Homo sapiens: one gene and its partner. The protein of the gene in region 2 purifies or fractionates together with the protein of the main gene of each other region. This does not show direct contact. Each region holds a gene or a part of one and is shown on either strand. Other genes may lie near its edges.

Region 1 (3,500 bases), on a different chromosome or scaffold from region 2:
GTTTGAATAAAGACTTTGGTACTACAGTTTAAAAAGTCAAGGAACCACTTGCACTTGGTCTTCCTATTATTTTATGCCATTTATATCACATTGTAGCCAAATACAGGTGAGATGACTGGATTTAATATCTTATTTTATTGTTAAACATGTTCACTGAGATCAAACTTATCTGCATTCAAACACTGGGTTTCCTAAAATTTTTGAAATGTGTGCATGAACACAAACTATAGATCTTACTTGTCAATTTGCTCAAATACGCATCTGAAAAATCATCTTCATCCTAACAATTCAGTAACAAAGTCACATATGATGTCTGGGAAACCTCCTAATTGTAAGTCAATGAAAGCAAGGCAACTATCGAAAAATGAGCAAAGCAATAAATGTTAGCAAAATTAATGTTCCTATATAAACACAGATGTCAATATATCATTGATATATTAACACAGCCAAGCTAAATGTTGCTTATTTGAACTGAACTTGAGTATTAAATAATCTACATAAATCCTACAGGGAAAAGCAGACAGACATAAGAAGAGTTTTCAAATTTTAGTGGCTCTGCAGCCTCTATCAATACAGAGGAAATACTGTGGATCAAATGATAAGTAATGGCTCTTACCTTGGCTTTTAGCCACTTTACGTTGGCAAAAAAAGGGGGGGAAAAAGTAGACATTAATGCTAGGTAAGTTATATCCGATAGGACAGGTTTACATTTACAGTTACTCAATTCATGTTAATAAGCTTTTTTCCAGCCATGTTTCAACTACTTTGTAAAGAAAAAGAGATCCATACGTACTGGGGAAATACTCATGTGTTTCATGTATTTTTCAAAAGAATTATATTCATAAGGAAACCACCACTTAATTATTCCAATCTCATGCAGGCTCAATGATTTTTTAAGTCAGTATTTTGTCCTATGGAACTAATCCAACCGAGTAACAGATGATTTTAAAAATACGCTCATTTAAATACAAACACCATAACACATTAGATGTGAAGCTATTTTAACATATCGGTGCATGAGACCTAACACTTTACTGGATAATGAATGTCCAAGTATGAGTATTCATTACTTCAATGGTAGTATAGTTTAAAAAGTGATAAACTGCAAACATTAAAATTCAAAACCACAGATTGCTTCCAAAAATGAAAAAAGGACCTAGTATCTCGATGTTTAAAAACAAATTCATCATGCACAGTGATAACTTAGCCAGATTCTAACTAAGAAATAAACAAACAGGGTCTGGAAAACTCTCTCATTCCTAGCTTCTGAACCCCAATCCTGTGCAGGCCAACACTAATAGGAAGTTCTAAGTAGCTTTAGTTCTAAGTTTTCATCTGAGCCAGTTAAGTCAAAATTCAAAGTTGAAGAAAAGTTGTTTTGATCCTAAAGGCTACTTCTATTAAAGCTGACTAGCCTACACAACATGAAACAATGTGTAGTCCTAAAGCATCACTACTTGTACAATGCCACTAAAAAAAAATATCTTCAGGTTTTAGAGTCTAATTTTTTACAGATTTGGGGGCTTCAAGCTTTTTTTTTTTTTAAATAACATCTGACATTCTCAACAAGTAACTACCATTTTTCAGGTGGCCACAAGGCAGTATCAAAGGAAATCATCCAAAGGAGAGATTTGGTGTCTTTTGGATACATTCTCATTTATAGAAACTGTGCGAGAAATTTGGTACACTTCAATATTTGTTTAAAATGATACTGCTTACTTCTATCTGGAAACAACATCTGGTACCCTACCTAACCATGACATTTCACATCTAGAGAATAAATTTTGAGTATAACATTATTAGGATCCTTGAAGATAAAATACACTAATGTATACTTCAGTATCTGTATTATGATATATACTATACATGTATAGTATATACTTACATAGCAATGTATATCTTATAATGTATATACATAATACTAAATACTATCCTAAAATAACCAAGAAAATATTCTAAATATGTCCACATATCTTCCTTCATTTGTCATTTCAAGTGGATAAGAAACAAAAAAATTAGCATTCAAGTATAAGCTGGTCCCAAATGGAAAGAATAAAAGAAGAATTAGATTGGGAATGAAAATTCTACTTGAACTCTGTGCTACTATGCAATGGTATAAGCTTTAACCTCTTATGAAGTTCGGCCTCCTCTATTAAGTGTTATTAGACATGCAGATGTGTCAATGTTGGCAAGTGTTAGTAGGAAATAACCTCTACATCTTACACCTCAAAATACTAATATTTTTGTTAGAAATCTATAAAATTTTTTATTTAAATATCCCCAAAATATATCCAAAATGAAACTTTTTTATTTCCTTAAGATCTCATTTCAGGCTAGGCACGGTGGCTCACACCTGTAACTCCCAACACTTTGGGAGGCCAAGGCAGGTGGACTGCTTGAGCCCAAGAGTTTGAGACCAGCCTGGGCAACAAGGCGAAACCCCTTCTCTTGAAAAAAAAAAATAAAAAATTAGCCAGGCATAGTGGCGCACACCTGTAGTCCCAGCTACTTGGATGGCTGAGGAGGGAGGATCACTTGAGCCTAGAAAGTTGTGAGCTGTGATTGAGCTATTGCACTTCAGTGAGACCCTGTCTCTTTTTAAAAAAATCTCACTTTGTTTCCTTAACATTTACCTTTATGGATGAGTAATTTTACCATTTGCCTGGAATCTGTTTGAAATTCCCTTTGATTCCTCCCTATCTTCTAAGTACATCATAGTTTTGTATGTCATAGGCACTAAATGTCTAATGCTAATTCTTTTTTTTTTTTTGCTGGCTCTGTTGCCCAGGATGGAGTGCAGTGGCTCAATCTTGGCTCACTGCAACCTCTGCCTCCCGGGTTCAAGCGAGTCTCCTGCCTCAGCCTCCCAAGTAGCTGGGATTAAAACTGTGTGCCACCATGCTTGGCTAAATTTTGTATTTTTAGGAGACGGGGTTTCACCATGTTGGCCAGGCTGGTCTCGAACTCCTGGCCTCAAGTGATCCTCCCACCTGAGCCTACCAAAGTGCCAAGATTACAGGCATGAGCCACTGCACCCAGCCAAGGCCAATTCTTTCTTTGAAATGATTCTTAACTCACTCCTCTGCTTTATAAAATAAAAATTAAAAAAAAATCTTCCTATGTAAACATTATAAAGCTTTAGTTTCTACACTGTTTTAAAAAAATTAATCAGAAAGCCATTAGGCTGAGACCATTAGGCTGAGACGGCTCCAGCATTCTGGGTTCCTACTTAGGCAAACCAAAACACAATTAAAAGAAACTTAATCAGAAACCTCCAACTAACCTCTAACTAGGAACTTTACTAATCAGAAACCACAATTAACTTCTAACCAATCAAATATTTTGCTTGTCTTGCTTTCTTGAACTTCTACCTGCTTCATGTCTCCTGTGGTCTGAAGCTGCCCGATTCATGAATCACTGTAAACTAAAACTCCAAAAAAAGTAACACATCTAAGCTTATCTTTTAAGACCAATAATAAAATCTAACAACTCCTAGATCA
Region 2 (3,500 bases):
TTGGACCCATTGTACAGACGAGGAAACTGAGGCTCAAAGAGTAGTGACCTGTCTCACCTCTGCAGGTGTGGAGGACAGCAAGGGGGAACCAGGGGGCATTTTGGGCCCCCAGCCAGGGCTGTTTGTGGCAGAAAGGACTGGTCCTGCAGGAGGACCCAGCTCCAGGCTCCCTCACCCTCCCTCCTTTTCCTAGTCCTGTAGGCTTGGACCACAACCGGAAGCCCAGCTCGCACCCAGGCTTGGACGACAACCGGGAGCCCAGCTCGCACCCAGGCTTGGACGACAACCGGGAGCCCAGCTCGCACCCAGGCTTGGACGACAACCGGGAGCCCAGCTCGCACCCAGGCTTGGACCACAACCGGGAGCCCAGCTCGCACCCAGGCTTGGACCACAACCGGGAGCCCAGCTCGTACCCAGGCGCAGGGGCCTTTTTTTTTTTCCTTTTGAGATGGAGTCTCGCCCTGTCCCCCAGGCTGGAGTGCAGTGGCGCAATCCCGGCTCACTGCAACCTCCATTTCCCGGGTTCTAGTGATTCTCCTGTCTCAGCTTCCCAAGTAGCTGGGACTACAGGCTCCCACCACCACGTCCAGCTAAGTTTTGTAGTTTTAGTAGAGATGGGGTTTCACCATGTTGGTCAGGCTGGTCTCGAACTCCTGACGTCAGGTGATCCACCCGCCTCGGCCTCCCAAAGTGCTGGGATTACAGGTATGAACAACCGCGCCTGGTCCCTTTTTTTTTTCTCTTTTTTGAGATGGAGTCTCGCTCTGTTGCCCATGCTGGAGTGCAGTGGTGTGATCTCGGCTCACTGCAACCTCCGCCTCCTGGGTTCCAGTGATTCTCCTGCCTCAGCCTCCCGAGTAGCTGGGATTATAGGTATGCACCACGACGCCTGGCTAATTTTGTATTTTCAGTAGACATGAGGTTTTGCCATGTTGGTCAGGCTGGTCTCAAACTCCTAACCTCAGATGATCCACTCACCTCAGCCTCCCAAAGTGCTGGGATTACAGGCGTGAGCCACCGCGCCTGGCCTAAGACTCTGTTGCCCAGGCTGCTGGAGGGCCGTGGTGGGATCCTCCTGCCTGAGCCTCCCAAGTAGCTGGACTACGAGCTCACACTACCAGGCCTGGCTAGGAGGGGGGAGGATTGCTTGAGCCTAGGAGTTTGAGACCAGCCTGGGCAACATAGGGAGACTTCCATCTCCACAAAAAAATAAAATAATTAGATGGGCATGGTGGGGCCAGCCTGTAGGCCCAGCTACTGGGGAGGCTGAGGTGAGGGGATCACTTGAGTCCAGGAGGCGGAGGCTGTAGTGAGCCAAGATCGCACCACTGCACTCCAGCCTGGGCACCTGGGTGACAGAGCTAGACCCTGTCTCAAAATGAAAGAAAGAAAAGAAAAGAGAGAGACAGAGAGAGAGAGAAAGAAAGGAAGAAAAAAAGACACACACACACACACACACACGCACGCACGCACACACGCACACACGCACACAAAACCCCCCAAAAAAACATTTCCTGAGTTCTCCGTGTCAATGAAACTGACCTAGGAGAACAGAAAAGCCCTCAGGGCTGGCGGCTGGTCCGGCGCGTGCAGGCAGCCCCGTCTGAGCCCTGAGAAGCAGCCCGGGCCTCCCTGAATCCCCCATCAAGGGCGTCTTTGTTCTGCCTGCTCCCTCCCGATACAGTTCCTCGTTTTGGGGCCAGGATGATCATCTCCTCCAGGGGCTCTTCCCATCCAGGGCTGGGCAGCAGCCACAGTGTTTTCCCGGCACACCCTGGGCTGCCTCACCCCCCAGGCCGCGAGTTCCCAGGACTGGAACCAGAGGGGCGCTTTCCCCGGCCCCGTGGCTGAGCCCGGGACAGTGTGGGCAGTTCTGGCTCTGGCCTCCCCCGGCCCCGTGGGTGTCAGAAGCTGGGCTGACCACTCTCCCTGGAGCTTTCCTCCCTTCCTCCCTTCCTCCCTTTCTCTCTTTCTCTCTTTCTCTCTTTCGTTTTGAGACAGGGTCTAGCTCTGTCACCCAGGTGCCCAGGCTGGAGTGCAGTGGTGCGATCTTGGCTCACTACAGCCTCCGCCTCCCGGGCTCAAGTGACCCCCTCGCCTCAGCCTCCCCAGTAGCAGGGCCTACAGGCCGGCACCACCATGCCCGTCTAATTATTTTATTTTTTGTGGAGACGAGAACCTGAGGACAGCCATGTCCTGAGGGTGCTCCCTGGGGGCGGAGCCTACCTGGGGGCGGGGCCTTACCTGGACGTGGTACTGCGAGGTCTCGTGCATGATGACGTTGGAGTTGGAATACTTCTTCCTCTGCTCTGAACCGGGAGACACCAGTCACTCCCCCGACGGGCAGGACCCACAGCCTCCCGTCCAGTTGGGACTGGACCCACAAGGGAAGGTGGAGTCAAGCGGAGGGAGGCTGCTCCGTGGACCTCTTGGCCACCAGGAAGGATGTGGGTGTGAAATCAGGACCTGCAGGAAGCCCCCTCCCTCCCTCCAGGGAAGCCCCCTTGGAGAAGGACGCAGCTCGGAGAAGGCGATGGGCTTGCTCTGAGTGGAGTGGGGACCAGCAGCCTGTGCCCGGGGGGTTTCTGTCCCGGAGGGTGAGGGGACAGGAAGGGGGTCCCAGCCCGGCTTCTTCCCACTCTGAGAGCTGCCAGCTTCACTCTCCCTGCCCTCCCAGGTCTTCTCGCTTTCCAGACTAGGCACCTTGTCCAAAGACATAAGTGAAGGGTGCATCTAGCTAGCGAGAGGGCAGGGTCGTCTCTGGGGAAGGGCAGAGTGGGGGGAGGTGGGGGCTGGCCAGGCCCCCCTCCTGGAGCAGACACCTGGCGGCTTATCCTGCCTGAACCTCGCTGTGATCAGGTTACAGCAATGAGTGCAGCGGAATCAATATTGATGCTCCCTGAATTATTAGTAAAGGCCTCTCCCCTTACGGGTGTGGGGGAGGGGATCCAGTGGCCAGGAGCTTTCGGAAGGTTGATTAGGGTCCAGAGGCCTCCCTGGGCACCCGGAGATCCCCTGGGCCAGACCAGGCACAGCTGTGGGGCAGGAGCAGCTGTCCCCCACCTGGATGCAGTGCCCATTTCTCCCCTGTGACGTCCAGCCCGTTCTCAAACCTCACTCACCAAACAGGTCCTTGGGGCTCATCTTGGCCACACCGTCGGACCGGCCCAGGCTGCCACTGCAGGGGAGGGGCTGTCAGGGCAGGGCCAAACTGCACCCCTCCCTGGGGACTGTTCAGAGGGTGAGGGTGGGGTATTCGGGATGGGTGGGAGGGCTCACTTGGTGGCACCCGGGCAGCAGCTCACGGCCCCGGACTGGCTCATGGTGTCTTGGGTGGCGGCCAGCGGGAGAAGGGCAGACCTCAGTGTGGCCCCGGTCTGAGGCCAGTGCCTGTCCCACACCTGGGTGGACAGAAGGGCTGCGCTGACACTTCCTCCGGCCTGGCTGGTTCCTCCCCTCCTTCCCTGGGCCAGATCCCTGACTGGCCTGGCCTGGGTGGG

Evidence for each region.
Region 1: the proteins of EPS8L2 (region 2) and ABI1 purify together in Homo sapiens (affinity purification with western blotting; 2 studies listed by BioGRID, with this or other methods). This does not show direct contact.

Annotation. Positions count from the first base shown.
Region 1 is NC_000010.11:26,770,459-26,773,958, forward strand, and holds part of ABI1 (abl interactor 1), read right to left. Parts: intron 632-3,500; coding exon 617-631; intron 1-616. UniProt on the Homo sapiens protein: May act in negative regulation of cell growth and transformation by interacting with nonreceptor tyrosine kinases ABL1 and/or ABL2. May play a role in regulation of EGF-induced Erk pathway activation. Involved in cytoskeletal reorganization and EGFR signaling.
Region 2 is NC_000011.10:709,231-712,730, reverse strand, and holds part of EPS8L2 (epidermal growth factor receptor kinase substrate 8-like protein 2), read right to left. Parts: intron 3,402-3,500; 5' UTR 3,324-3,401; coding exon 3,280-3,323; intron 3,179-3,279; coding exon 3,123-3,178; intron 2,310-3,122; coding exon 2,245-2,309; intron 1-2,244. UniProt on the Homo sapiens protein: Stimulates guanine exchange activity of SOS1. May play a role in membrane ruffling and remodeling of the actin cytoskeleton. In the cochlea, is required for stereocilia maintenance in adult hair cells.